Linked DNA regions of Homo sapiens: regions 1, 2, 4, 5 and 6 are each linked to region 3. The links come from fine-mapping of genetic effects on gene expression. A gene starts in region 3. Each other region holds a variant in brackets. All regions are shown on one strand. Distances are between the middles of the regions. Region 1 overlaps RSU1 (Ras suppressor protein 1). Region 2 overlaps RSU1 (Ras suppressor protein 1). Region 3 holds the start of RSU1 (Ras suppressor protein 1). Region 4 overlaps RSU1 (Ras suppressor protein 1). Region 5 overlaps RSU1 (Ras suppressor protein 1). Region 6 overlaps RSU1 (Ras suppressor protein 1).

The links. PIP is the estimated chance that this variant, and not a neighbour inherited with it, causes the effect.
Region 1: its variant is the best candidate, but not a certain one, in a credible set for the expression of RSU1 in whole blood (INTERVAL, PIP 0.74).
Region 2: its variant is the best candidate, but not a certain one, in a credible set for the expression of RSU1 in whole blood (INTERVAL, PIP 0.57).
Region 4: its variant is the best candidate, but not a certain one, in a credible set for the expression of RSU1 in whole blood (TOPMed, PIP 0.51).
Region 5: its variant is the best candidate, but not a certain one, in a credible set for the expression of RSU1 in cerebellum (GTEx, PIP 0.86).
Region 6: its variant is the best candidate, but not a certain one, in a credible set for the expression of RSU1 in whole blood (INTERVAL, PIP 0.54).

Annotation. Positions count from the first base shown.
Region 1 is chr10:16,590,194-16,595,273 of GRCh38, reverse strand. RSU1 (Ras suppressor protein 1) reads left to right here. Exons shown (of 9, transcript NM_012425.4): 9 at 1,778-4,663. The coding sequence ends at 1,880. Among named protein-coding and RNA genes, the nearest start is that of C1QL3, 71 kb to the right of the region's middle. The variant A/CTTTA (reference allele first, on the strand shown) is at 2,096.
Region 2 is chr10:16,616,713-16,621,808 of GRCh38, reverse strand. The region is part of intron 8 of RSU1 (Ras suppressor protein 1); the gene reads left to right. Among named protein-coding and RNA genes, the nearest start is that of C1QL3, 97 kb to the right of the region's middle. The variant C/G (reference allele first, on the strand shown) is at 2,900.
Region 3 is chr10:16,814,367-16,819,455 of GRCh38, reverse strand. RSU1 (Ras suppressor protein 1) reads left to right here and starts at 2,032. Exons shown (of 9, transcript NM_012425.4): 1 at 2,032-2,141; 2 at 2,372-2,483. The coding sequence starts at 2,375. LOC105376435 (a long non-coding RNA gene) reads right to left here and starts at 1,757. Exons shown (of 3, transcript XR_930708.3): 1 at 1,700-1,757; 2 at 714-775. RefSeq lists enhancers at 1,414-1,463, 1,494-1,583, 1,614-1,723, 2,394-2,553.
Region 4 is chr10:16,712,059-16,717,154 of GRCh38, reverse strand. The region is part of intron 7 of RSU1 (Ras suppressor protein 1); the gene reads left to right. LOC124902384 (a long non-coding RNA gene) reads left to right here. Exons shown (of 2, transcript XR_007062072.1): 2 at 1-1,158. Among named protein-coding and RNA genes, the nearest start is that of RSU1, 100 kb to the left of the region's middle. The variant C/A (reference allele first, on the strand shown) is at 2,893.
Region 5 is chr10:16,793,605-16,798,700 of GRCh38, reverse strand. The region is part of intron 2 of RSU1 (Ras suppressor protein 1); the gene reads left to right. Among named protein-coding and RNA genes, the nearest start is that of RSU1, 21 kb to the left of the region's middle. RefSeq lists enhancers at 2,745-2,804, 3,015-3,234. The variant A/G (reference allele first, on the strand shown) is at 2,685.
Region 6 is chr10:16,752,577-16,757,672 of GRCh38, reverse strand. It overlaps RSU1 (Ras suppressor protein 1), which reads left to right. Exons shown (of 9, transcript NM_012425.4): 5 at 2,684-2,802; 6 at 4,673-4,755; 7 at 5,020-5,096. Among named protein-coding and RNA genes, the nearest start is that of RSU1, 62 kb to the left of the region's middle. The variant T/C (reference allele first, on the strand shown) is at 2,639.

The DNA of each region.
Region 1 (5,080 bases), 220 kb after region 3:
AGCCCTTCCCCTCTGCCTGTCAGCCATGGTGGAGATGTCATCAAGAACACTAGTATTGGACGCCAGGCACAGTGGCTCATCCCTGTAATCCCACTTTGGGAGGCCAAGGCAGGAGGATTGCTTGGGGCCAGGAGTGTAACACCAGCCTGGGCAACCTAGTGAGACCCCATGTCTATTAAAATAATTTTTTTGTTGGGGCATGGTGGCTCACGCCTGAATCTCAGCACTTTGGGAGGCCAAGGTGGGTGGATCACTGGAAGTCAAGAGTTCAAGACCAGCCTGGCCAACATGGTGAAACCCCATTGCTACTAAAAATATGAAATTAGCTGGGCATGGTGGTGCATGCCTGTAAGCCCAGTTACTCAGGAGGCTGAGGCAGGAGAATTGCTTGAACCTGGGAGGCAGAGGTTGCAGTGAGCCAAGATCACACCACTGCACTCCAGCCTGGGCAACACAATAGGACTCCATCTCAAAAAAAAAAAAATATATATATATATGATATATAATAGATAATATAGTATATTTTATATGATATATATGATATATTATCTATATGTATCATATATTATCTATGATACATATAATATACAGATAATATATGATATAGATAATATATGATATATATCATATATATCATATTATCTATCATATATATCATATAATAGATATTATATATGATATATATATTTTTTTTAATTAGCTAGGCATGGTGGCATATATCTGTAGTCCAGCTACTCAGGAGGCTGAGCCATGAGATCGCTTGAGCCCAGGAGTTTGAGGCTGCAGTGAGCTATGATCATACACTGCCCTCCAGCCTGGGGAGCAGAGTGACAGAGTGAGACACTCAGGAAAAAAAAAAAAATGCCGGACGCCAGTATATGCTAAACAGCCCAAGATGCCAGCATCCAGAGAGTGTGCATATTCCTTGTGTGGATGCTGGAGCTGGGCCACCTGGTACAGGGACGTCAGGCTCTGTGCCAACCCTCATTCACAGCAACTGCGGGCTGTGGAGCCGGGTATGCCCTTGCTGCAGAGGACCTGAGACACCCACCAGGCTCTCTTGGAGACACAGTTATATCAATAAAAGGAGTTAAGTTTGAGCTGTATTTATTTTAGGGTGGCTTTTAATTTGGTTTAATCAGAATTACTCATAAATTATCGATTAATTACCTTCTGCTGTTCAGTTAAATCCTCTCAGCCACGGAGCCAGCTTCGCTGCGCAATGAATGCCATCCACCGTAATTATAGGGCACTTTGTCAGCATTTAATCAGCGGTACTTATTAATGTGGCATTGATGTGTGGTGGCCAGCCCCACGCTATCCATCATGGGTGAGCAGCCAGCACAGATTTGGACACCATTGCTCTCTGTCCCATTAGCCAGCCCCTGGGCTTTCGGGCCAAGCATCATGCTCGCTTTTCACTAAATGGACACTCTGTCTCTTCCATTCAATCCCATTTTTATCACTGTCGACTTAAACACTCATAAGCTTTTGAACTTCAGTCCAGAACGGCTGAGCAGGGCCTGACCACTTCTCCCAGTGAGTGTGAAATCCCAAGAGACTGGTCCGTGATCGGACATCATGGCATGGCGTGCATGTGTAAGAGAATTTTATATTCAACACAGCGTAGCACCCAGAGAACACAGAAGTGATCTTTTGGTTTTCTTTGGCTTACTGAATATTTTTGGAGATTCTTCTATTCCTGAAAGCTCTTCCAGTGAAAGCTATCTTGTGTTGGCAAAATAGATCTGATAGTGTCCTTTCTCTGTCTTTGCAGCCTCTACGGCAGACACATGCAGGCCAACCCAGAACCACCGAAGAAGAATAATGACAAATCGAAAAAGATCAGCCGGAAACCCCTGGCAGCCAAGAACAGATAAGGAAGGGATTGGCATCGGCTGGCCTTCCAGCACCTTCTCTCTCCAACACTTCATTCTCTCTTGCCCTGTCTCTCAAATAAACCCAATGCTGCGTGTGAGGCCTTTTTTATTTTTCTTTTCACTCTCTTTCTAATGCTTCCCACCTTACCTTTTAGATTCTTTTGCTAGGTGGGAGATTGTTATAAGGTCTTTAAACCATTTCCATTTGTTTCTTT[A/CTTTA]ACATTACCAAAAGCAGGGAACAAAGCTCTTATTCAACTGCGAATTCCATAGTGGGCTCTGGCTTTTCTTGAATAGATATCACAAGGTTGCTTATTATCAAAAGAATAATTAAAATCATGTAACCATTTAAATGTCACTGTTAACACTTTTCACTCTTTCTGTTGATTCACCTAACTCATTATTTTGCTTTATTAAAAGTCTTCCTTCACCACCGAGATATGCTAATTTAACTTACAAATGATTTTAATAAAATCTTGAGTTTGTATCACATGTTACTTATTGACTCAGAATAAAAGAACAGTCTGATCTTGGGGTATAACACATTTTCATTTACTTTTCTCCCCCAAAATCATCTTATCCAATTTTATTGGTTATACATGATAAACTTTTCATGAAAGAAATGCAAAATTAAATCACAGTTCGTTTCTTCTCACATTAATTTGTCAAGTTTTTTTTTTCTTTGAAGACTTTCTAAATTAGGAAGCAGAAAAACAAATCTCTAGGAGATTCTGCCAAAGGATTTTGGAAAGTAGCATTCCTTCGCCGAAGAAATGGTGATTTCTGCCAGGGGCTGGTAGACAAGAACTGTGAAAGAGAGAGAGAAAAAACCTCAACTGTGTATTTTGTCACGGCGGAAAATCTGCTCGCATCGAAGCATTCTTCTAAGCGACTTCGATGCCAAGGAAGTTGTGTAAATGTGCACGCGCTACACCACACCCAGGGTGGAAACCACAGTTGCAGAGTCATTAAACAATCAATTGTTTGTTTAACATCTGTGATAGGCAGCTTTCCTTCTTTTCAACAGTGATACCTACGAAAATCAAAATAAATGCAAGCTGAGGTTTTGTGCTCACTGAAAGGGCTGTCAACCCCAGAAGGCCGACACAAAAAAAATGGTATGTGAAGATGCACCGTCTTTTCAAATGGCCTGGGAGAGTCAAATGGCCTGGGAGAGGGGGCCTGCCCTTCTCTGCTGTGTCCTTTCGGCTTCCCAGTTGAGCTCCCAAGACCAGGACCCACTGGGGCATATAAAATCTCTGCTGTATCCTTTCGGCTTCCCAGTTGAGCTCCCAAGACCAGGACCCACTGGGGCATATAAAAAAGTCAAAAATCAAAATCAAACAACAAGTTCTGAGTTACTTAGGAAACAGACTTCGCATTTCAATCAGAGAGGCCACAGAGCAAGGTCTAAACTTCTGGCTTCTAGACAAATTCCTGATAGAACATTTAAATGTGGGAAGTGGCTTCCCCAGGTCCCATCCCCTGTTTAGGGATAGAGTTGATATCATTTTTATAGGTGCCATGTATGCCTCTGCCTGAATTTTTTTAATTGACTTTTGAGCTTTTGAGATTGCACGAGGGAGAACAAGGCCTTTGCTGTTGTGGATAGGAAAGACTTAACCTAAAATTAAACCAGCAAGAAAGCATTAGTAAAAATCTAACAATATGAAGGGCTCTTATGAGTCATTTTTTTCAAAAGATGAAAACTCCAGAAACGCACAGGAACGAAATACCTCCCAGAAACATGAAGCAATCATCGAAGACTCACTGGTAATATTTTTAAAAAGTATACAGATCAAAGCAAAAAGAAGCCATGTGTAACAAAGAGAAATGTGCAAATATTTTTTAAGGCAGTATTAAGTGCAAGAGGAGTAACATGAAATAAACATTCTTTCACATGGCTACTGGGAATATAAATTTCGCTCCAGAAAGGCCGTAGCAGTTTGACGATAGGTGGCAAAACCTTAAGATTGTGTACTGGGGCCCAGAATTTTTATTTCTAGGAATGTATCCTGAGGAAATTATCCGAGATCCCCACAAACTGCAATGTTTAGGAATTGTCCTTATAGCATTGCATACACAAGAAAAACAGAGAAAAGCCTGATCCCTGTCAGTGGAAAAGGGGTTCAATGAATTACGGTGTGTCTGCATGAGGCTTTTATGACATTAAAAATTGTTGAACAACGGCCAGGCACAGTGGCTCATGCCTGTAATCCTAACACTTTGGGAGGCCAAGGTGGGAAGATTGCCTGAGCTCAGGAGTTTGAGACCAGCCTGGGCAACACGGTGAAACCCCGTCTCTACTAAAATACAAAAAATTAGCCGGGCGTCGCAGCATGCGCCTGTAGTCCCAGCTGCTCAGGAGGCTGAGGCAGGAGAATTGATTGAACCCGGGAGGCAGAGGTTGCACTGAGCTGAGATTAAGCCACCGCACTCCAGCCTGGGCGACAGAGCAAGATTCCGTTCCCAAGAAAAAAAAATTGTTCAACAATAAGGGCAAAGGGAGAGAATCATAACATCTGATTAAACAGAAAAAGCAAGATTTTTAAAACTAACTATATAAGGATGGTCCCAGCTGTGTCAAAAGGAAGCTTGTTTGTAATACGTGTGCATAAAAATTAAATAGAGGTGAACACAATTATTTTAAGGCAGTTAAATTATCTCTGTATTGTGAACTAAGACTTTCTAGAATTTTACTTATTCATTCTGTACTTAAATTTTTTCTAATGAACACATATACTTTTGTAATCAGAAAATATTAAATGCATGTATTTTTCAAAATCAAATTGGTATGTCATGGTATATTATGCAATCCAGGAAATATATATTTAAGCTCAAGGCATAATATAAAATGTCAGGAGGGTTTTTTCTCTTTTTGTTACCAAAATGGATTTCACGTCTTTTCCTACAGTTTTTAGTTACTTGATATCTGGATCAGCAAACAAAATATCCAAAGTTTGAAAGGTGGCCTTTTTTTTTTTTGAGACGGAGTCTCTCTCTGTCACCTAGGCTGAAATGCAATAGCGTGATCTCAGCCTACTGCCACCTCCGCCTCCCGGGTTCAAGCGATTCTCCTGTCTCAGCCTCCCGAGTAGCTGGGATTCCGGCACCCGCCACCACGCCCAATTAATTTTTGTATTTTTAGTAGAGACGGGGTTTCACCATGTTGGCCAGGCTGGTCTCGAACTCCTGGCCTCAGGTGA
Region 2 (5,096 bases), 200 kb after region 3:
CCCCATGTGTCGTGGGAGGGACCCAGTGGGAGGTAACTGAATCATGGGTGGCAGGTTTTTCCCATGCTGTTCTTGTGATAGTGAATAAGTCTCATGAGATCTGATGGTTTTATAAAGAGGGGTTCCCCAGCACAAGCTTTCTTGCCTGCCGCCATGTAAGATGTGCCTTTGCTCCTACTCCACCTTCCACCGTGATTGTGAGGCTTCCCCAATCATGTGGAACTGTGAGTTCATTAAACCTCTTTTTCCTGATAAATTACCCAGTGTTGGGTATGTCTTTCTTAGCAGTGTGAGAACAGACTAATACAGTCATTAAAATTGACAACTTGCATCAGTGTACACATAGAATCTTCTCATACAACACCTTTGGGAACCACTACTGGAAGGAAATGTTACATTTCAGGGACTGAGGCTGGGTACGGGAAACAGAGCCAGTGTCCATAGTGTTAATATTCGTAGGGGCCTCAGATTTAATTTTACCTGTAAGTTTTTCTTACACCAGAAATTTTCAGCCTTAGCACTCTTGATGTTTTGGGCCAGGATGTCCTGTGCAGGGTGGCATGTTCAGTGGCATCCCTGATCTCCACCTGCTAGATGCCAATAACACACCCCCACAGGCGCCCAAGGTGTGACAATTGACAACCAAAAATATCCCTAGACATTGCCAAATATCCCCTGGCAGAGGCAGAATTGCACAGGTTACTACTGTGCCTGTGTCACAAATAAGTCACACATAAGTCATTTTGTTGCTTTAATTCTTCTGTGTGTCCTTGGTCTTAAACTGTTACTTGGTTAAGTACGCAGATTGAAAAAACACTGCAAGGGAATTTTTTAGAGTCTCTCTGCACCTATTCTGGTTTCAGGACTGCCCAGTTTGCATTGTTGTTCAAAATGGAAAGAAGAGAGGGAGGAATTTTTTACAAAATAAAATTCACTACCATTTTTGAGACTTTTTTTTTTTTTTGAGATGGAGTCTCGCTCTGTTGCCCAGGCTGGAGTGCAGTGGCGCGATCTCAGCTGACTGCAAGCTCCGCCTCCTGGGTTCACACCATTCTCCTGCCTCAGCCTCCCAAGTAGCTGGGACTACAGGCACCCATCACCACACCCAGCTAATTTTTTGTGTTTTTAGTAGAGACGGGGTTTCACCGTGTTAGCCATGATGGTCTTGATCTCCTGACTTCATGATCCGCCCGCCTCGGCCTCCCAAAGTGCTGGGATTACAGGCATGAGCGAGACTTTTTTTTTTTTTTTTAACATTTTGTACATATGCCAGTAACTCCCCTCCCGCAAAAATGGAAGATTGTCTTGACCTCTCGTGAGACCTGCTGAGGCCACATCTGGTTCCCCCACTGTAGAGGTGAGTTAGGTCTCCCCACTGAATGTCAGTTCCCAAAGAAATCTCATGTGTAAATGAAAGAGCAGATCCTCCCTCCCCTCCTCACTGTTTTTTGCTTATATGTAGATGTGATTCCTTTCAAGAAAACTCCGTGAGAAATTACTTCACTATCATCCACTATTGACATCAACAGCAGCCTACATTTTTTCAAGATACTTAAAGTGCATTTTCGCTTTTAACTTTCACAACACTTTAATGTTGCTGGTTAATATTATTGATCCCTACTTTTTTATGAGAAAAACTGAACCTCAGATAGGTTAAATAACCTGCTCAAAGCCACACCACTGACATTGCTATTCTGATAAAGCAGAATATTTGAAGCAGTTTCCCCCAAAACAGAGCAATGTTCACGTTAATTATGAAACATAGCATGAATTCATAGGTAGCCTGTCAATAATTATGAGTATGTGGTATACTGATGTCATAATTTTTATATAAATGTATAAACCTGTTGGCACCCTGTGATTGTTACTGGTTTGTTTTTTTAAGTACCTTGGATGAAAACTTGAAAGAAATATACGAAAATAGAAGCAGAAGTTATGTTTAAGTGGGATACTTCTGCAGTTTTCTTTTGAACTCCCTTGTGAATTTCTAAATGGGTTGCAATATATTTTTACTTCTTTGGAAAATGAAATTTGTAAGTTAAAAGTGAAGGGAGATAGATATAGCTAACATAACTGCCAAAGTTGCTTTTTCTCTGTAACTCTAGCTAAGAAATGACCATATTCTGTCCATGTGTCCATAAGTCTAGGCTCAGGAGTCTTTCAGAGTTTATTTGATGTACCATTGAGCTGAGGGCTCTGTCCTGCCACCTTTTGTTCAAGGAAACACACGAGGCACTTCCTTAGGGAACCCAGTGAAGATACCTACTGATGGGAAGCAGGACAGTTGATTCATTCCCTCTGTTTCTGTTTTAATGCTACACTGGGGTGAGATTAAGTGGTACCTCCCAAGAGAAAGAGCAGGGAACCCGATGTGCCTAGATTGGTTCACTGTGAATCACAGCAGTTGTTCCCGTTGACATCACAGAGGGGACATTGATGGTAGATCATGTCACCATCAGCTCTCCCTAGTGAAGACTCCTATCTGGAACCACGTGGAGAAGACTGTGAGGTGAAAACATGCTACTCTCTGTCACATACTGCCAGGTAGATGCTTGCTGCTGGCAGAAGGCATAGAATATTTTGTAAACTACGTGAGTATTCTATCAAGTAATATTTTTCTGAAGCAGGCTTCCATCTGTCTTGCCATTCATTTTTAATTTCTTAGCACTTCATAGTAGACGTGTTTTGAGTATTTTGGTCAGAATTGTAAACATTGTCCTCTAAGGGAATCATTCTCAATGAGGTGCTAAGTACCTGATGTTCAGTCCTCATAACTACTCTATTAGGTAGCAGGTGGAATGCCCATTTTATTTATAATTTTTTTAAAGTTCTGGGATACACGTGCAGAACACACAGGTTTGTTACATAGGTATACATGTGCCATGGTGATTTGCCACAC[C/G]TATGAACCATCATCTAGGTTTTAAGCCCCACATGCATTAGGTATTTGTACTAATGTTCTCCCTTTCCTTGTCCCCTACCCCACCACGGGCCCCAGTGTGTGAGTTCCCCTCCCTGTGTCTTTGTGTTCTCATCATTCAACTACCACTTATGAGTGATAGCATGTGGTGTCTGGTTTTCTGTTTCTGTGTTAGTTTGCTGAGAATGATGGCTTCCAGCTTCATCCATGTCCCTGCAAAGGACTTTAACTCATTCTTTTTTATGGGTGTATATAGTATTCCATGGTGTGTATGTGCCCTATTTTCTTTATCCAGTCTATCATCAAAGGGCATTTGGGTTGGTTCCAAGTCTTTGCTGTTGTAAATAGTGCTGCAGTAAATATACGTGTGCATGTGTCTTTATAGTAGAATGATTTATAATCCTTTGGGTATATACCCAGTAATGGGATTGCTGAGTCAAATGGTATTTTTGGTTCTAGATCCTTGAGGAATCGCCACACTGACTTCCACAATGGTTAAACTAATTTACACTCCCACCAACAGTGTAGTAGTGTGCCTATTTCTCCACAGCCTTGCCAGCATCTGTTGTTCCCTGACTTTTAAATAATTGCCATTGTAACTGGTCTGAGATGGTATCTCATTGTGGTTTTGATTTGCATTCTCTAATGACCAGTGGTGATGAGCTTTTCTTCATGTTTGTTGGCTGCATAAATGTCTTCTTTTGAGAAGTGTCTGTTCATATCCTTTGCCCACTTTTTGGTAGGGTTGTTTTCTTCTTGTAAATTTACTTAAGTTCCTTGTAGATTCTAGATAATAGACCTTTGTCAGATGGGTAGATTGCAAAAATTTTCTCCCATTTGAAGGTTGCCTGTTCATTCTGATGGTAGTTTCTTTTGCTGTGCAGAAGCTCTTTAGTTTAATTAGATCCCATTTGTCTATTTTGGCTTTTGTTGCCATTGCTTTTGGTGTTTTAGTCATGAAGTCTTTGCCCATGCCTATGTCCTGAATGGAATTGCCTAGGTTTTCTTCTAGGGATTTTATGGTTTTGGGTTTTACATTTAAGTCTGTAATCCATCTTGAGTTAACTTTTGTATAAGGTGTAAGGAAGGGGTCTGGTTTCTGTTTTCTGCATATGGCTAGCCAGTTTTCACAGCACCATTAATGAAATAGGGAATCCTTTCCCCATGGCTTTTGTCAGGTTTGTCGAAGGTCAGATGGTTGTAGGTGTGCGGTGTTATTTCTGAGGTCTCTGTTCTGTTCTATTGGTCTATATATCTGTTTTGATACCAGTACCATGCTGTTTTGGTTACTGTAGCCTTGTAGTATAGTTTGAAGTCAGGTAGCATGATGCCTCCAGCTTTGTTCTTTTTGCTTAGGATTGTCTTGGCTATATGGGCTCTTTTTTGGTTCCATGTGAAAGGTAAAGTAGTTTTTTTCTAATTCTGTGAAGAAAGGCAATGGTAGCTTGATGGGAATAGCATTGAATCTATAGATTACTTTGGGCAGTATGGCCATTTTCATGATATTGATTCTTCCCATCCATGAGCATGGAATGTTCTTCCATTTCTTTGTGTCCTCTCTTATTTTCTTGAGCAGTGGTTTGTAGTTCTCCTTGAAGAGTTCCTTCACATCCCTTGTAAGGTGGATTCCTAGGTATTTTATTCTCTTTGTAGCAATTGTGAATGGGAGCTCACTCATGATTTCACTCTCTGCTTATCTATTATTAGTGTATAGGAATGCTTGTGATTTTTGCACATTGATTTTGTATCTTGAGACTTTGCTGAAGTTGCTTATCAGCTTAATGAGTTTTGGGGATGAGACAATAAGGTTTTCTAAATATGCAATCACGTCATCTGCAAACAGAGACAATTTGACTTCCTCTCTTCCTAGTTGAATACTTTCCTTCTCTTGCCTGATTGCCCTGGCCAGAGCTTCCAATACTATAGGAGTGGTGAGAGAGGGCATCTTTGTCTTGTGCCATTTTTCAAAGGGAATACCCGTTCAGTATGATATTGGCTAGAGTTTGTCATAAACAGATCTTTTTGAGATATGTGCTATTAATACCTAGTTTATTGAGAGTTTTTAGCATGATGGGATGTTGAATTTTATCAAAGGCCTTTTCTGCATCTATGGAGATAATCATGTGGTGTTTGTCCTTGATTCAGTTAATGTGATGGATTACTTTTATTGATTTGCGTA
Region 3 (5,089 bases):
AACATAATTGAGTGAACAGAAGAGAGGTTTAAAAACTATTATCCTCGGTGATACCTGAGAAGAGAGTACATTCATGAAACAAATGCAGGGTGTTATTATAGGCCGGCAGTCCAATAGGACTGGTGTCCTTAGAAGAAGAGACACCAAGGGTGTGACTGCATAGAGAAAATGCCCTGGAGGGACACCAAGAGAAGACAGTCGTCCACGAGGCAGGGGAGAGGCCACAGGATAAATCAAATCTGCTGGCACCTTGATCTAGAACTTCCAGGATTGTGAGAAATTTCTGTTGTTTAAGCCATCCAGGCTGTGGTATATTGTTACGACAGCCCTAGCCGACTAACACAGGTACTGTATGTCTTCAGCCTACCTAGGCAAGATTCACTATTAGAAATTGATAGAATAAGAAAAATTCTGATTGCTTCAAAACAGGACTTTTGCTTTAAAAGAGTTAATGATTCAAGAAATAAATGTATTAGGAGATTACCTACTAATACGTATTGATGAAATTATGAAGTTAGAAAATCATCAGTGGATGCTAAAACTTGTGGGTAAAAATTAGATGAGGAATGGGGTGTAATCAAGTAGCACCTCCCCCCAGCATTATTTTTAATCATAAAGAAAAAAATAGTAACTTTATGGTGAAGAAACCTGGCAGACACTACCTTATTTAAGTGAACATCACCTATACTGGGAGAAACCGATGCCATCTGTACCTTGATATCATGCACTGGAAAAGACACATCGCTTTAGTGGTGTTTCTCCAAAAATTCATAACCTGAAAGGGAACATCAAACTTACTTTGAAGGATATTCCACACAATACCTGGTCTGTATTCTTAAATAATGTCTAGTTCAATAAACATAAAAGCCAAGGACGGTTCCAGATCAAAGAAGACTAATGGAGGAATAACTCTTTCATCTGGAATGTTTTTTAAGCAAGAAATACCTGCTTTCGAATTTAAGAGTGCAGATCCTTTTTTTATCCAATTGGTTCGGAGATATAATTACATTATTTTACCACATCTCCTTAAGGCTTTGATCCCTGCTACAATCTACAATATATAAATGCATATGTGTGGCATCCGTCTTATCATCAATTTAGGTGACCAGTAGAAGAAAAGTGCCTGGTGCCAATTTTTATTCCATAGTATAAAATAGTCTCTCAGGACAGGGTTTTTGGTGAGAGAAGCACAGGATGTTGCTGGGTGACTGAGACTGGGTCAGGAAATAGGGAGGCAGAGGGCAACAGTTTCTCTAGAATTTAAAATTTGGTTGCTTTTGGAAGAGAAAGCAAGAGATTCCTGGAAGCCAGAACGTCATGTTTCACAAATGTAAAAGTCCTAGTTGGGAAAGACACATCGCTTTAGTGGTGTTTTCAAATGACTTTTAAAATAGTAGGGTTTTACTTGTAGGTTCTAGCTACAAGTAAAAAGGCTAAAAGCCAGCCTTAGAAACCTGTCAAAAAAGATTTCCAGCAGGGCGCTGGGGAAACGCAGACCGCGCCGGAATCCCCGCCTGGAGAAGCTCTTAATAGGGCGGGAAACTGCGTGCCCCACAAGGTCCCTCAGAGGCACATTGTGGAGACGGGCTCAGGGTAGCAACTTCTGGCGAGTGGAGCGGCTATTACACAAGCGAAACATTCGGAAGCAATTTACTTCCAGCTTTCGCAACACCCACCCTGAGCCACCACCCTCCCTTACACAGTCACGCCACAAACTTCCCCACTTCCGCCCACAGCCCTCTGGGCTTCGACCCATCAACTGAGCTTGCGCCAAGTCTACTGCGCACGCGCCAACTTCGGCCCAATCAGCGTCCCAAACCGTGGGGTGGACGCCACCGGGATAAACTATCCTCAGCGTGGGGCGGGGTCTCGAAGCCGAATAACGAACGTGATTAGCCAGCCTCTTCCACAGACTTTTAAGGGCGGAGCCTGGCCCTGGAGACACGTCTGGAGAGCTGTTCTCCTAATATGGGTAGGGTCGGGCGTGGAGCTGGCAGCGGCGCTGTGTGCGCCTGCGCGGGGCGCCGAGACAGGGCGTGTTCGCTGTTCAGTGCCGGTGTTGCAGGGAGTGAGGGCAGCTGGAGTGCGTTCTGCCGAAGCTTGTGGTTGCACGCCCATCGTCTTAGGGGCTACCTTCCGTGGTGAGTGTGTGCGGTGTTGCACTTGGGGTTGCTTCTCGCTGCGTGGCCGCAGCGGGGCTGAACCCTTCCCACTCCATCCCCTCCCCGCACCCGGACCAGCCCCTGGGACGCCCTCGGACGCCCACCCGCTCCAACCCTGGGGAAGCCTCAGAGTGGCAGCGAAGGCCTCTTGCCTTTCCGCCTCTGCGCTTGCTGTCATCGCCCACGTGCTTTGTTGTTGTTCGGTGCAGACCATGTCCAAGTCTCTGAAGAAGTTGGTGGAGGAGAGCCGGGAGAAGAACCAGCCCGAGGTGGACATGAGTGACCGGGGCATCTCCAACATGCTGGATGTCAACGGCCTCTGTGAGTTCTCGGGCAGGACTCTCCCGTGGATGAGCTGGAAGGCTTTCTAAGTTTGCCAATTCACTGCTGGTCCTGCTGTGAGCGATTGTACTGGTTTAGACCCCAGCCCCTGCTTGTAAACCTCACTTGTCAGGGGCTTCGCGCAGAGGGTTTGCAGTAGGATTTGTTCTGTTCCACCTGGAAAACGATCCTGAGAGTCCACGATGAGAATCACACAGACAGCTGTGCCTCATCGGTTGTCTCTGCTGTATGGCATTGAGGTGGATTTTCCACAGTTTGCTTAATAGTCACTTTAATTATAAATTGAAAATTAATTTTGAGTCCTTCTTCCTGTCTCCTAATACAGTCTTTGTCCATGAACAAATGACACAGAAAAGTTCCATGGTTAATAAGCATTCTTGTGCCTGGAGCGTTTTAAGCATTTCTTGAATCTTTACATTCTTCTGAGTATTTATTCTCCGAACTTGGTTCAGGCTTTTGTCACCTCCTCATGCTGTGGTGAAATCCTCCTAACTTGCCCTCTTGCCTTCAGTTTCACTGCCCAGTTTAATCACTGGGTCACTTTCAGTGTCATTTTCCTGTAACCCCTGTCTATGGTGTTACCCTCTCCCTTAAAACCAGGGATTGCAGATTCACATGCCTCCAAGTGAGGGCGGTCAGGGGCGGTTATGAACTAGGTGATAGGTGTCCCACTTGAAGGGGCCAGCTGCTGCACCTGCTACTCAGACACATGTCACCATAGGAATGTTGGCCCAATGTGCCAGATTATTTTCTTAAAGGAACCAAGATTCTATATTTTTATGTGAAATTTGCTAATTTTTAGATGTTGGCTACTAATTCTAATATTTGAAAAACCTGTGATAAGTGAGCTAAAGCAGTTCTTCAGGCTGACGTGGCTTTGGTTTAAACCCTCTCCGCACTTCTCCAGGTTGTCCATTATCGACGGTAATGCTCCAGGTTTCTTGGCGTGATGTACAAGGCCTTTCTGAATCTGAACACAACCTTACCCTTCCATGCAGCTGGCATTCCAGCCATTCTGAACCTGTTGCCCTTCCTGGACCAGAGCCTACTCGTTCAGATCTTGGTGCCTTTACAAATTCTGTTTTCCCTCTTTCTCAGTCGTTTGCACCTGAAATCCTTTTACTTCTAAGAGTCAGCTTAGACATCACCACCTGTGTAAAACCTTATCCGTCTGCACCAGGCTAACATATCCCTTCCCTCCTCTGTGAAGGTGGTCGTGTGTATTGCTTTGTGACTCCTCTCACATAGGATTGTACTGATTTTTTTCTTTTTTAATCTAGAAGTCTCTCTTCTCTGCTGGGACATTGGGAAGACAAAAGCTGTGCAATATTCATGCTTGCATTTTTTTAATAATAGTGCCTGGAGCACAGTAGATGCTCAAAAATAGTTGAGGAATGAAGAAAATGAAAGAATGATGGATTAGGCCTGTGAGTTTGGGATATCAACTCCAGGATGTGACAAGAGAGAAGAAGGGAGATGTTCAGGAGACCCTGAAAGGCGATGGATAGCCATTTAGGCATGGAGAGAACTGCAGAGTCAGGTTTACTGTGAATTCACGGTTTTCACGGTTCGAAAACCTGCCTGGGACAGAGGTTGGAGTTGATGCTATTGATATGTCTTGGCAGAAGGAAAAGGGAGGAAACGTAGATTTGCGTTTCGTAGGCTTTATGAAAATACGTGCCATTAAACTTAGGTTGTGTACTAGTTAGCCTCTCAGGCTTGGTGTGTGTTGGTCTCTTGCATTCCGTAAGGGTCCTTGCTGTCAGCAACTGAGCAGATGCCTCTGGAATTGGATATCTGAGTTTGCCCCTTGCTGCGCCTGCCCGGCTCTGCCATGACCATGGTCATTATTGGGGGCACTGTTGATACAGAGGAGAAAGAGAAGGGGATAGGGAAGATGATGCATAGCGGGAACCTTGGCCCCATGGCCTTCCTCCCTACAGCACTCATTCTCACCAGGTAGAAGAGAGGCTGCTTTCAGCAGAGGAGCTTTGTACCCTTCGGCTTTTGAAGAGGAGACTTTATGTAATATTTATAAATGGGGAGAATGGCTTAGCTATTTCGGTTCAGCTCCGTTATCTCTTTGAAGCCTTGGCTTTTATTAAGGAAGAAAAGCCACTTGCTTCCTGAAATATATTTCCGGTATAACATTGGGTGGTGAAAAGCGAGATCATTCTTAAATTTTCCTAAAGAAGTAGCTAACAACGGATAATAGTACTTTTTGGGAAGTTGGGTGGAAGTGAATTTGGAGATTTGCAGATTCCATCTCCTCTGGCTTCTGTAGCATTGAGCCAAGGCTGCTCTCTGCAAACTCCCTGACCTCAGGACTTCTCGGAGCCTAGGGGGTTCCAGGATGCTCTTCGAAGCCTCCACCAGGGCTCACTTCTCAGCAGTGCACACACACTGACACAGTGCTTAATATATACAAGTATTAAAATACTTCACATGGCTACATTAATTATAAGTGTAAGAATTTTTTTTTCTTTTTTTTTTTTTTTTTCCTGAAAACAGGGTCTCGCTCTGTCACCCAGGCTGGAATGCAGTGGTGCAGTCACAGCTCCCTGGGGCCTCACCCTCCCAGGCTC
Region 4 (5,096 bases), 100 kb after region 3:
ACTTAAGTTTAGGTTCTGTATAGTAGGTTGATCCCTTACTTAACCTTTAATAAAATTGGATTCAAGGGTATTTATATGTAAATAAAAAAATAAAGTTAATTTCGTTTCATACTTCCCTATGAGCAAGTGTCTAGTAATATATTACAATGACATTTAAACTTCAGTATTTGTCCTATTGGCTGAAAAAATTCCCATACTTTTTTAGCAACAGGGTTTGAGGTTAGACATTAAAAAGGGAAGGTTCTTAAGATGAATATTAAGATTACGTGATCATATGCACAGTGATGAAATCAGTCTGTATTTGTTTGACCTCTTGTCTCCTATGAAGGTATCTAAGAAGTCATTTCCTCCTATTACATATTTTAGAAATTAAAATTTAATAACGCTTCATACCCTCCAAACTTCTCTGAAAGGGCTCTTTAGTTGTACAGGCATCTAGATCATGGTCAGACTCCTTTTCTAAGTAATGTTATCAATAGTGTATTTGTATACGTGGTTATAGATCAAAGGTTGAAATACGCTTATCAGTGCCTCCTGAAGAGGCAGTCCCCTGGAGTCTTCTTATCTCACCTGATGAGTGTGGTCTTTTGGTGCTCATATCATGTATGGAAGGAGGTGGCAGGGATCAGGAGGGCATATCCCCTTTGCCTCTCATTCCCTACCCGACTTCCCAGAGAAAGCAGCATTTTCAAACTTGCAGAAATATGTGAGGGCTCTCAGAACTGCTTAGGATCAGCCATGTACATTGTGAAAAGTGAGTCATGGCTTTTTCTCTGCAATAGTGTAGACGTTTCTACTCTTAAAAATAAAGATAGATTAAAATATAACACCTCAACTCCAAGAGCTCCAAGCCTCCCACAGAACATCGTAGTCCTGCTACACTCAGTTGAACATTTATGCCCTGGCCCTGGCACCCACCTCCCTTAGCCTGCCTGTGAAGGCGTCTCTCTGATGCCCTATCTAGACCCGTTCTTCCTTTTCCTACATTTGAACTTTTTCTGAGATAGTTTCAGTTTCCATAATCTCTGTGTGATGATTTTCATCAAGAATTCCGACTAAGGAGATTTTATTCTTTTAAGAAGATTTGTTCAACATATACTTACATGAGATTTTGTTCTTTTTAAAGACTGTGTAAATAAATTATCTGATTAAGAAAAATTTTTCTACTTTGTTTTGACTCTTGAATAGGGAAATGCTTGCCTATATTTAAATGCAACCTGCTAAAAATACTTGTTCTGACCTATTAGTGAAGTATATCACACTATCTAAAGCAATCTGTAGATTTAATGCACTCGCTATGAAAATCTCGCTGATGTTTTTTGCAGAAATAGAAAATCCCACCCTAAAGTTCATATGGAATTGCAACAGACCTCAAGTAGTCAAAACAACCTTGAGAAAGAACAAAACTGAAGGATTTAACAATTCCTGATTTCAAACTTGCTACAGTTCCAGTAGTCAAAACAGTGTGGTACTGGCCTAAAGGCAGATATATTGACCAATGGAATAGAATAGAGACCCCAGAAATAAATCCTTGCCTAAATGGTCAAGTGATTTTTTGACAAGTGTGCCCAAACCACTCAATGGGGAAAAGACAGTCTTGTTAAGAAATGATGAAGTGAAAAACTACATAGGCATATGCAAAAGAATGAAGTTGGACCCTTGCCTAATAACATATAGAAGAATTAACTCAAAATGAATAAAAAACCTAAATGTAAGAACTACAACTATAAAAATTTTAGGGGAAATTGTAGGATAAAATCTTCAAGACGTTGGACTTTAAGATGACTTCTTGGCTATGACACCAAAGGCACAGACAACAAAAGAAAAAATAGGCAAATTGGACTTCATGAAAATTTAAGAATTTTGTGCATCAAAAGACAACATCAACACAATGAAAAGGCAACCCAGAGCAATATGGCCAATGAGAGTTGCCTAGTGCTCATCCCTCCCCCAAAAGGGGATCTAAACAACAAGTAAACAACTATATTTCAACTAGAGTGACGAGGAAGTATGCTGGACCGCACTAGGGGAGCAGCAAACTTCCTGTGGTGCATGGAAGGCCAGGACAGCACCATGGACAGGTGAGCGAGGCATCCTGCCTCTGCCACAGTCTCCCCCAGTGGAGACTTGGCAGTCATGGGGTGCTGTTTATGGGGAAATGTATGCTGGTGATTCCCAGCAGTCCCCATTGCCACCAGAAATGCTAGCAGTCTTTGATATAGGAGTCCCCTAAACTTCACAGGCCCCCAATCCAGTTTGGAGAGTAGCCGGGAGCTCACACAGATGCAATGCCTCAGTGTCCACATTGAGGACCCGCAACCTAAGCAGCTTCAACTCTGTCCCATCTTGAACCTTTCCCACTGCTAGAGTGCATCCTGCCCTGCGCACCAGTAGCAATTGACTCTTTTCATCCTGGAGGCCTAGCTGTCCTTATACCACATTCACACAGGTACCTGCAGCACTATGACCATAGCTACCCAAAGCATAGGTCACATGGAATGACTGAGACCCCAGTGTTCAAACCCAAGTGACACACCACATCCCCCCACCCCCCAGGGAACAGGCAGATCTGTACGGTGCTGAAGTCACTGAACAGTCAGCCAATTACCTCTCCTGCACGTACCTGCACCATAGCCACCTGTCCCACCAAGCGCGGTGCATCCATAGCTGGTCCAACTGTTGGTCCTGTGGCAGCCTCGTTCCCGCATACAGACACCCAAAGAGCAGCTGAATGCTGCTATTCTATGTCTAGCCTGACAGCTGGTCCAGTAGCAGCCCTCCCTCCCAAATAACTGCAAGGCTGCCCAACCCCATTTCACACTGGCATCCAGCCCAAGAGCTGGGCCAGTGGTGGACCTGCTCCTCTAGACAGACTCCTACAGGGCCACCTGA[C/A]ACAGCTGCACCTATGTGCAGCTGGCACAGCATCAGACCAGTAGACTCTTCATCCATCCTCTTGAAGAGACAGCCACGTAGCTGCTCAGCTAGCCACACCCATATGCACCTAAGCTCAGCCCAACAGCCAGACTAGTGGTGGCCCCACCTCCCTGAAAAGCCTGTTGGAGAGCCTTTTCGCCCTCCACACCCATACATATTCAGCCCAACAGCCAGCCCAACACCCCTACTCCCAGCAAAACCACACACTACGACCACCACAAATACCTACAGCATAGGCCATTGAGGCAATTGCAGACATTGCTGATGAAGATTGCAGCTGAAAAAACTACATGTAGACCATGCTACTGAGTCCACCCAGAACTAAAGCTAACTCACCACACTCAAATGACACCTTGGGACCTATCTACAGGAAGAATTATCTCCTAATGAAAGTTACTTCATAAACCTGGAAAGGGTCACTATTCCACTAGATGTTCAGATATCAGCATAGGGACACAAGCAATGTGAAAAAGCAAGGAAATGTGATACCTGCAAAGGAATACAATAAGTCTTTAGTAAAAGACCCCAAAGAAAAGGACATTTATGAAATGCCTGAAAATAAGATAATCTTAAGGAAACTCATGGAGATACAAGAGAATACAGCAAATAATTCAGTGAGATCAGGAAAACAATTCATCATCCGAATGAGAAATGCAACAAAGATAAGTGTCATAAAGAACCAAACAGAAATCTTGGAGCTGAGGAATTATGAATGAAATAAAAAGTGCAAGTGAAAGCTTCAACAACAGACTAGATCAGGCAGAGTAATTTCTGAACTTGAAGACAGGCCTCTTGAATTATCCCAGTCAGAGGGAAAAAAAAATAAGAATTTTAATTGAAGAAAGCCTGTGGGACTCATGCGATACCATTAAATGAACAAATGTGTGCATTATAGGAACTTCGTAGGGAGAAGAGTTGGAGAAAGACACAGAAAACCTATGTAATGAAATAATAGATGAAAACTTCCCTAGTCTTGGCAGAAATACGGACATAGGAATTCAGCAAGTTCAGAGGTCCCCAGTTAGATTCAGTCCTCTCTGAGGCACATTATAATCATACTCTCAAAAGTTAAAGACAGAATTTTAAAAGCCACAAGAAAACAGTGTCACATCACACACAAGGGAATGTCCATTAGACTACTAGTAGATTTCTCAGCAGAAACCTTGCAGGTTAGAAGAGAATGGGATGATATATTCAAAGTGCTGAAAGAAGGGGGGCTTGTGGGGAGGAGGAACTGTCAGCCAAGAATATTATATCCAACAAAGTTATCCTTCAGAAATGAAGGAGAAATAAGACCTTTTCAGACAAGCAAAGGCTGAGAGAATTTGTGACCAGTAGGTTGGCCTTATAAGGAATGCTTAAGGGAGTGCTACCACTGGAAAAGAAAGGACAATAATTATCATGAAAACATGTGAAGGTGTAAAACTCACTAGTAGAGGTAAATTCATAAAATACTCTAGTGATTTAATGGTCCTATGTAAATCTCTCAATCCTCTAGTATGAAGACTTAGAAGTCAAAAAGGTCAAAAACAACAACAACCACACTTAGTGGCTACAAATATATAATAAATAAGTAGATTAAGGCAACAAAAATATTAATTGTGTATGGGGTTAAGTCTAGAATATTTTCATGCAACCAGATTTAAATTGCTATCAGGTTGATGTAGTCTATTGTAACTACAAGACTCTTATGTTAGCCCCATGGTAACCACAAAGAAAGAAATTACGACAGAATAATAAACAGTAAAGAGAAAGAAAACAAAACTTCGCAGCACAGAAAACCACCAAACCGCGAAGGAAAATAACATGAGTAAAAGAAAGGGGAAAAGGATCTACAAAACAAGCAGAAAACAACAATATGGCAGGAATAAATTTTTATTGATATGACCTTGAATATAAATGGATTAAAGTCTCAAATTTAAAAACACAGAGTGGTCGAACAGGTTTTAAAAATAAGACCCAACTATCTGCTGGCTACAAGAGGCTCACATCATCATTAAAGACAAACATAAACTGAAAGTGAAGGAATGGAAAAACATATTCCATACAAACAGAAACCAAAAGTGAGCAGGAGTAGCTATAATTGTATCAGATAAGACAGATTTTAAGTCAAAAACTGGAAAAAGAAAAAAGGTCATTATGTCATGATTAAAGGATAAATT
Region 5 (5,096 bases), 21 kb after region 3:
AATTGTATTAGTCTGTTTTCATACTGCTACAAAGAACGGCTCAAGATGGGTAATTTATGAAGGAAAGAGGTTTAATTGACTCACCATTCAGCATAGTTGGGGAGACCTCAGGAAACTTACAATCATGGCGGAAGGGAAAGCAAGGTGCCTTTTTCACAAGGCAGTAGGATGGAGAAGTGCTGAGCGAAGGGGGAAGAGCCCCTTATAAAACCATCAGATCTCATGAGAACTCACTATCGGGGGAACAGTATGGGGGAAACCACCCCCATGATTCAGTTATCTCCACCCGGTCTCTCCCTTGACATACGAAGATTATGAGGATTACAGTTCAAGATGAGATTTGGGTGGGAACACAGCCTAACCATATCAGAACTTTTAAATACCTTTTATTTCAAGAAAGTATTTTTATTGTGATTTTTAGTCTATGAGCTCTTTCCTTATGTTCTTTATGGTTTTCTGGGGTCTGTATGTTGATTTTTTTGCCCATCTTTAATATTTGTCACTTTTGCCCAGATCCCTGTTCTTGCTTCATTTCTTTGTTTTAAAAGAAATCCCTCATGCCTATAATCCCAGCACTTTGGGAGGCCGAGGCAGGCATATCAGGTGAGGTCAGGAGTTCGAGACCAGCCTGGCCAACATGGTAAAACCCCGTCGCTACTAAAAATACAAGAATTAGCCGGGCGTGGTGGTGGGCACCTATAATCCCAGCTACTCTGGAGGCTGAGGCAGGAGAATCCCTTGAACCCGAGAGGCGGAGGTTACAGTGAGCCGAGATTGCCCCGCTCCACTCCAGTCTGGGCAACAGAGAGAGATTCCATCTCAAAAAAAAAAAAAAAAAAAAAAAGAAGAAATCCCCACTTTAACTTCTGTTTCTTGTAAAGTATTACGTATTGTGTTTATTTGCTCTTATATGTCTTTGAATTTAGCTTTCATTTCTGAAATAATTTTTTTTGTTTCTAATTTTTTTCTTAAGTTTTGTCCCTTTATTGCTGAATTTTTGGAAATCAGATTTATGTTTCTGTTTTGTGTCATGTATCATTGTTGTAATGGCTTTTTACCTTGTTTTGAAATAGTCAATTATAGTTTTGCCCTGTGTTCTGGGCATCTTTTTGGTTAGTGAGTTTTCATGGTCAATGATGTTCTTCTACACTTTCTTTTTCCTTTTATTCCATAATAACGTTATGGGATTTGCTCCCAATATTTTTTATGTTGCTCATTTTTAAATGAAATTAATTTTCCTAAACTTTCAGAGGAAGGCTTAGTTCTAGATAGCTTTTCTAACTTTACAGAGCTCTGTCCTCTGGTTGATTTTATGTAGTTTTCAGAAATACAGTGGCTTGCTTTCAGATGACTTGGTTCAGTCCTTCTGCCCACTTTTATCTGGATCTTCTCTATCCTTGGTCTCTTTTTCTCTCTCTTTTTAAAAGCGTTTTATTTTTACTTACTGCTCCTTGTGGAGTAGGGCTACCCTATAGGCAGTGTGCCTCTATCATTGGTCTCTATTATTTCTGTCTTATCCAGCTTTGATTCTAGGCCCTGTCCTGCAAGGGAGCCCTAGGTGGTCAGTTTCCAGGTCACAGGGCCTAGACTTGTCCTAATCCATCAGACCCTACTGCAGGCCCTGCTGTTGGAATGGGCAAACCCTTCCTAATTTCAGCTGCTATTCTCACAGAGGTCTTCTGGGCTTTCTGGTGAATTTGTTTAGCTATTCGGGGGTTCTCAGTTGTCAAGTTTGTTAGTTGCCCCTTGGGTTCTCTCTGCTTTCGTCACATGCATGCTGATATCATGCCAATCTTTGGGTTACTGGTAGCTTGTCCTCATCTACTTGTATTTTGGAGTTTTTTGTGGGGACACTTTATAACCTAGTTTTGTTGTAAATTGTGTCCTTGAATTTTTTCTTGCTGCCTAGTTTCTCTATTTTGATGTAGGGTTTCAGGATTCCTAAAATCTGCCATGCTGCCTCCACGTTTCCTGCACCTACACTTTTTCCTCCTTGGTACAGTGGGAAAAATAAGCTTCTCCTCAAATGAAGGATAATGTGTATGTAGTATCTGATGCAGACCAGGTACTCAAAAAATGATCATTGTGATGAACAGTTTGACAATTTCATACTTGTTGAGCAGTGGCATAGTCTGTTTTGAAGCTGCCATTGTGGGAGCTCTGATAAGAGGGGGATTTAGGGGTGAAGAGTCTAATGGGCCTTTGGGGTGAGGAAAGAACAAGAGGGTGAGGGTTTGTGGGTGTCATTGATGGCAGATTTGTTTGCAGTGTTGAGAGAAAGGTGGAGGGAATGGACTGGAGCAGGACTGGGAGAAGAGACATCACACACAGTGAAGACGTAGCGAGGCCCTGGAGCAGATCAGAAGAAACACACCTAAGTTTGACTTAGGGGCTGATTGATGATCAATGTCAATCTAGGTGACTGGTTATAGGATTGGAGAAGGCAACACTTGGAGGCCAGGATAAGGGATGACATGTGGGGAGAGAATCAAAATCCAAGGTTAAAAATAATGGTTGAGCTGCCTACGAGACCAAATCATGTTTTGCCTTCGGGTAAGAGCAGGTGGCACACCATGGTCTTCTAATATTTAGTGACTGTTGAGGGACTTAGAACTCTTAGAGCTCCAAGAGTCATGTGGCTTTTGTACAGACAGCAGGTTTAGGATTCCAGCTCCTCCTGCTTG[A/G]AAAGAAGGTTTACTTTTCCCAGGGAAATGTGGGGCCAGGTTCAGGTGAGAAGTATGGGGGAAGGTTGAGGCGGACGCAGAGAGCTGCTGCTCAAGCGGAGAATGGAGAGTGATAGAGAAACGTCTGACATCAGCCCCTGGGAAGAGGGTGCCGGTGCCTCACCTGGGCGGCTTGTTTAGGGGTCCGGGGGGTTGAAGATACACCCAATTTTCTGAAATGCAAAGTGTGCACAGTTAATACTGCTCATGTCTTAACTTTGGCAAAAAAACAACCTGTGTACTTAAACTCCTTGTCTTTTGAACATCATAAAATGCCATGCAGTTGGCAAATTGTGGATGCAACCGGTGGCATATTTGTTTAGCCAGTAAGACAGTATCAGAATTAATCAGCTTCTTGTTTGGAAACAGCTTTTAGGGGGTTCTCTCTGCTTACTAGTTCTGAAATCACAGACAAGTTACATAACCTCTTGTGTCTCATTTTTCTCATCTAAAATTGAGAGGGAAGAAGAGACTACTATTGCCTTGTAGGGTTATCGTGAGAAATAGGTGAATTGATAAAGTTCTTAGAACTGTGCCAGTCATGTTTTAAGCATTTGGTAAGCATTAGCTATTGTTGTTTGTTATTACCTTATTTTTTTTTAATTTTTTTTTTTTTTTTTTTTTGAGATGGAGTCTCACTCTGTCGCCCAGGCTTGGGTGCAGTGGCGCGATCTCGGCTCACTGCAACCACTGCTTCCTGGGTTCAAGCAATTCTCCTGCCTCAGCCTCCCCAGTAGCTGGGATTACAGGCACCCACCATCACACTTGGCTAATTTTTGTATTTTTAGTAGAGATGGGGCTTCACCATGTTGGCCAGGCTGGTCTCGAACTCCTGACCTCAGGTGATCTGCCTGCCCCGGCCTCCCGAAGTGCTGGAAATACAGGCATGAGCCACCACGCCGGGACTGTTCTAACATTTTTGATTCTAGTGAACACATATGTAAAGTGCTCAGCACAACACAGTGATGTAGTGGTCATTACATAAATAATCTTTTTTCTCTCTTTTATTTGTTTCATTTTAAAGATGAGGAATTTGTGCTCCAGAACAATCCAGTGATTTTTCTCAGGATCTCATGGGATGACAGGGCAGGTCTCACCTGCTAGGAACTGTGCGTTCTTTGCTTTGCTTTTGTGTCTTATTTTATTCTAGATAGGAAGGAATTTTCCATTCAGGTTTATATTATTTTTATTATGGTTGGAATTGCTGTCATAAAGGACATTCCATCCAGGTGTCAATAATAATTTTCCAGTTTGCAAAGAAGAAGCTCAAGATTTAGAATCTGGAAACCTTGATTGTACTCTGTTCTGATTCTGCTGGCCCGTGGAATCTTAGAATACCTTTACTTCTCTGGCCCACTGTTTTCTTATCTGTAAATTGAGGAGCTTAAGTTGTTTGATTTCTAGAGTTCCTTTGGCTCCAACATTCTATAACCATGATTTCTAAAACTGCATAAGTTTTGTGTTACACAAATAAAATAGTTTATGCTAGAAAAATTAGTCAATACAAACAAGCTAAAAAGAAAAAAGAAGAGACAGAGGAGGAAGGTAGTTAGAAATAAAACAAAATGGACTCTGGTCCTTGAAGGTTTTATTAACCCTAAAAAAATTTTCAGGCACTTCCCTTTTAATGGGAGTTTCAAAGCACCTTAGTACTTTTATGGTACAAGTCTGCCTGTCAGAGTTCTCCAGAGAAACAGAATCCATAGGCAATATATATATGGAGATTTATTATGGAAATTGGCCCAGGTGATTATGGAGGCTAAGAAGTCACATGATGTGCTGTCTGCAAGCTGGAGAACCTGGACAGTTGGTAATGTAATTTAGTGCAAGGCCAAAGGCTGGAGAGTCATAGGAGGGGTGCGTGTCAGTGATGCAAGTCCCAGAATCTGAAGGCCCAGGAACCAGGAACTCTGATGTCTGAGGGCAGGAGAAGATGGATCTTCATGAATTCTCCCTTCCTCTGCCTTCTTATTCTATTGAGGCGCTCAATGAATTGGTTATTGCTCACCTGCATTGGCAAGGGTAGGTCTTCTTTACTCAGTCCCCTGATTCAAATGCTAATCTCTTCTGGAAACACCCTCACAGACCCTGGAAAAGAACATTTTACCAGCTATCTGGGTATCTCGTAGCCCAGTCAAGTTGACAAATAACATTCACCATCACTTTCTGTATTGTATCCTAGTGTTTTATTTCATCTCCTTATTGCAGAGGAAGCTCATTGAGGGCAGCAGCTGCATCTCACTCATATTCTATCCCTGTCCCACCAAAGAAGTACAGTGGCTTGCAGAGTAGCTGTAGCTCACCAAGTTTTGTTAATACCATCCAGTGACTGCATATCTTAGGTGGCTTACTATATTTTTCTCTTTAATTCTC
Region 6 (5,096 bases), 62 kb after region 3:
CTTCTGAAGTCTTGGCTCCTCACCCTCTCTTAGGCTGTTTTTTCATCTCAACATAGCATTAATGACAAGCTCCATCTTACCTGTATTGCAAGGTAGTTTTAGTGAACAAGCGAAGTCCTTGCCATAATGTGCTTCACAAATTGTGACTTCATGGAGAATGTTTGTTCTTGCTGTCGTGGCAGTAGATAGTCGTGGAGGTAGTTTTGCTGGGTGTAGTCTGTCTGGGAAGTTTTCTGCCTGACAGGGGGAACCCGCGTTTCCCTTTTGGTTGCCCCCTCTGCTGTCAGCTGTTTCTGGTGAGGCCCTCTTGGTAGGGCTGGATGGAGCTGAATGTGTTAGGAGAAGGATCGATGGCTAGAATGATTTTTATTGTCACAGTCCCTTCCACCTTTCAGTATCTGTCAACTTTTATTAAATTTTTTTTTTAAAAATTGGCTTTTAAGTATGCTCAAAGGGAACTGCGTTAAGAAAAATAAGGGGCTTGAAGAAAGGATAAAAGATAGTGTAGAAAAAAATTCCCTTAGACTTCACTGGAGACACGCCCACACACACACACGCACACCCACACATACCCACACGCACCACACCCACAGCACACACACATACCGTGTACAAACACACCCACACACACACCACACACACACTGCGTACACACACACCACCACACCCCCAAACACACCCTATACACACACCACACCACACTCATACCTACCCCACACCACACACATACCCGCCCCCACACAGCCCCCCACGTCCTTCACACACCACACCCCACCCCTCACACACCACACGAAACACCCAGATACACATACACATAACATCACACACAATACCACACACACACAGCACACACCCCACACACACACTCACACACAATTGACCCTTGAGCAACACATGGGTTGCGGGAGCAACACAATGACTCATGCAGTCAAAAATCCACACATTACTTTTGACTCCGAAAAATCTTAATTCCTAATAGCCTACAGTTGGCTGGAAGCCTTACCAAAACTAGAAATAGTTGATGAACACATATTTTGTATGTTACATGTATTCTATTCTGCATTCTTACAATAAAGTAAGCTAGAGAAAAGAAAATGTTATTAAGAAAGTCGTAAGGAAAAGAAAGTGCATTTACTGTGCTTTAAGTGGAAGTGGATCATCTTAAAGGTCTTCGTCCTCTTCATGTTGAGTGGGCTGAGGAGGAAGCGGAGGGTTGGTTTTGCGGTCTCAGGGGTGGCAGAGGTAGAAGAAAAATATCCATGTCTCATTGGACCCAGGAAGTTCAAACCCATGTTGCTCAAGGGTCAATTGTATGATTTAAAAATTTTTTAGGTTGTGATAAAATGCACACAAAATGTACCGTCTTTGTAGTAGACAGTTCAGTGGTGTTAAGCGTATTCACATTGTTGTTCAGCCAATCCCCAGAATTTTCTCATCTTGCAAACCTGAATCCTACGCCCATTAAACCACACCTCTCCATTCCCCCTCCCTCCAGCCCCTGGCCATCACCATTCTAATTGAAGATAATTTTCAGTGTTAGCAGTTGTAGAACAAAAACATGATTTTCCCTCCAAAAAAGGAATAAATGGAATGAAATCAAGCAAAAGCCTGAAAACTACAAAGCTTCATGTGTATATTTTGAGATATTATCACTACGTTCATAGGGAAGTTGTTCTTTACAAGGAAAGATATTTTGTAATGGTTTGAGTTTTTGTGTAAAGCAGTGATTAAGTTTCACCGTTGGAGGAAAATAACAGCTAAGAAATTTTCAAGTGTTTCAAGATCATGTAAGCTGTCTGACTGAAATTATTAGCCTAAATAGGACAACATACCACACCTTCTCACTTATATGTGGAATGTAAAAAAGTAAACCTCATCGAAACAGGGAATAAAATGGTTACCACAGGCTGGAGGGAGAGGGGAATTGCAGAGATGTTAGCCAAAGGACATGAAATTTTAGTTAGGAGAAATAAGTTCAAGAGATGGATTGTACATCATGGTGACTGCAGTTAATAACAATATGTGGTATAATTGAAAATTGCTAAGAGAGTGAATTTTAAGCAGTCTCACCACAAAAGACAAAAAAAATGACAAGCATATGAGGCAGCGCGTGTGTTAAATAGTATGATTTAAACCATTCCATGATGTAGTATACATACATCAGAAGTATCATGTTGTACACCATAAGTATGTACAATCTTTGTCATTGTAAATATTAAATAAATGCTTTTTTTAATTAAAAAAAAAAAAGGATGGGCATGGGGGCTCACGCCTGTAATCCCAGCATTCTGGGAGGCCTAGGTGAGAGGATTGCTTGAGCTTAGGAGTTTGAGACCAGCCTGAGCAACATGGCAAAACCCCATCTCTGCAAAAAATACAAACATTAGCAGGGCGTGGTGGCGTGCATCTGTGGTCCCAGTTACTTGGGAGGCTGAAGTGGAAGGATCGCTTGAGCCTGGGGAGGTTGAGGCTGCAGTGAGCTGAGATCATGCCTCTGCACTAAAACCTAGGCAACAGAGTAAGACCCTGTCTCAAAAAAATAAAAAATAAAAATAAAGTATAAAGTGACTCTAGGATCATGGCACTGTCTTACACTTTCAGCGTCTGAAACAGAGGTGCCCTTGATAGTCTGTATGAA[T/C]GTGTCTTTGGTGTCATGACATAGATTTTTGTCCCCCTGCAACAGCATGAACAGGCTGAACACTTTGCCACGAGGCTTCGGCTCCCTGCCAGCTCTTGAGGTTCTGGACTTGACGTACAACAACTTGAGCGAAAATTCTCTTCCTGGAAACTTCTTCTACCTGAGTAAGAAACTTTCAATTCTATAAATCTCCTCAACCTTGTACTTTGCGTTCTGAGAGGGAAATTTATTTGCCAGGACCCAAACTCCAAGAGAAATTATTGGACAGAGATAATTTTTTCTTTAGAGACTCCTTTTGAATATTCCTTCGTAGCTCAGCAGTATGTGCATTTGATAGATCGTTATGTGACACCATTGGGCTGAAGTGGACTTAGTAATGTCATATTAACATTCTGAGAGAGATTATATACCTAAATGAGATCAAGCCTCACATTTAGCTAAGAGACTTGACTTTCTTTTTAAATAGCATGCCAAAAAAAAAAAAAAAAGTATCTTCCTATGTTGCTATTAATTCTTTGTAGGATATTTGCCCAGGATATTCCAACCAATTATTTATTAAAAATATTTATTAATAAACCAGTAACACAATTTTAAAATTTTCCAGCCAGTATTCCTATTTTGAGCCTTTTAAAAAGTACTCTTATTGACCTATTTATCCAGTACACAGGCATTAAGAAATTATTGGCCACAGGTGAACACACTTTATTCTTTCATATGCAAACAAATTTCTTGCTGGAGATGCTTTTGAAAATTAAAAAATGATTTCTTCTGGGAACTCATGCACTATTTTGGACAAGGTTTGCTTCCCTTAAATCAGTGTTCTATTTCTTCAAATAGTAACTTGTGTGGCATTCAGAAAATCTGAATTTTCAGAGCTGATCTCTAAAATTTTATTTTTTACCTTACGTACATTACCTTTCTATGACTTTCTCAAGCACATGAAACCAACTATAAAATATTTTCTTGGGCAGTGGAGCAACTATTTTTATTATGTTATATTAACATGCAGTTCTCGGGAGTATGAGCTACAAAGATCACTTGAGGCTAGGAGTTCAAGACCAGCCTGGGCAACATAGAGAGACCCTGTCTCTAGAAATAAAAATTTAAAAAGTAGCCAGGCATAGTAGCATGAGCCTGTGATCTTAGCTACTTGGGAGGCTGAGGTAGAAAGAGTGCTTGAGGCCAGGAGTTTGAGGCTGCAGTGACCCACTGCACTCCAGCCTAGGTGACAGAGCGAGACTCTGTCTCTAAAAAATAAATACGGGTAAACAAAACATGTATCTAATTATACTCAGCTTTTTTGGTTGAAGATAAACAGATGCTTTAGAATTTTAGCCTTCAGTAGGTTGGAATCGTATTATCATTGTGTAATAATTATGAACAAATTTCTGACTACTGATATTCTCCTTAAGTTAGGATTTACTCTGTTAACTTCATGTCATTATTTTAGCCTCTTTGTCTTCATTTACTTTTGTCCTTAAGGCTGTAGAAACACGTAGTAATAATTAGTCAGATTATGGAACTGATGAGCTGTGGTTATAGCCTCCATCACCAGAAAGCCTTCCATTAATTTGTAACACAGTGCTATTTACATAGGAAAAGGTCTATTTTAACAGAGCTGTATTCTCTTGAAAGAACCCTTTTGCCCTAGGTATCCATAAAAGTGGCACAGTAGTGTTCTTTGTTTTACTTTGGATGCAAATGGAGAAATAAATGTGAATCAAAAGTAATCTATGAGAAGTATAGCAATCTTTTCTGAAAATGTGCTGAAACTCTGTGCCCCAAAATGCTGGCGCCCACAGTTGTTAATTGCGTCATTCCTCTTGGATATAGATGTTTTCCTGGACACACCAGCTACACAATAAGCCAGTAAATCTAAGTTTGACCTGCTTGTTATTATTGGGAGCCCTAGGTATGTCAAAGGCTTTTCACCAAGCCAGGGTTATTAATCAAAGCTGACTCCCTCGTATTGATCAGACCTCAAATGGTTGTGTTCCATGCCACCCTGTTTATATATTGCTGTTTAATTTGCAGCCACCCTGCGTGCACTCTATCTAAGTGACAACGATTTTGAAATCCTGCCGCCAGATATTGGGAAGCTCACAAAGTTGCAGATAGTAAGTAATTTATCTAAATTCTTAGAAAATCAATTCACTGCTGCAGCCTTGTAGGGGTAGAATCAAGTCAATTTGAGCAGGAGTAAGGTTTGTTTTGTGGGAATAAACCACTACTCCTGATAGTGTTTCTTGATTATCCGCCGGCACTTGTAAATACATGGAAAGGATTGAGCTTTAGTAGAAGAGAGGACATAGAGGATGAGAGTTTCTGTGGAGCACCTTTTAATGTGTAAATATGTTGACAACTTGTTTTCTTCTGTTTAGCTCAGCCTTAGGGATAACGACCTGATCTCGCTGCCTAAGGAAATCGGGGAGCTTACCCAGCTTAAAGAGCTCCACAT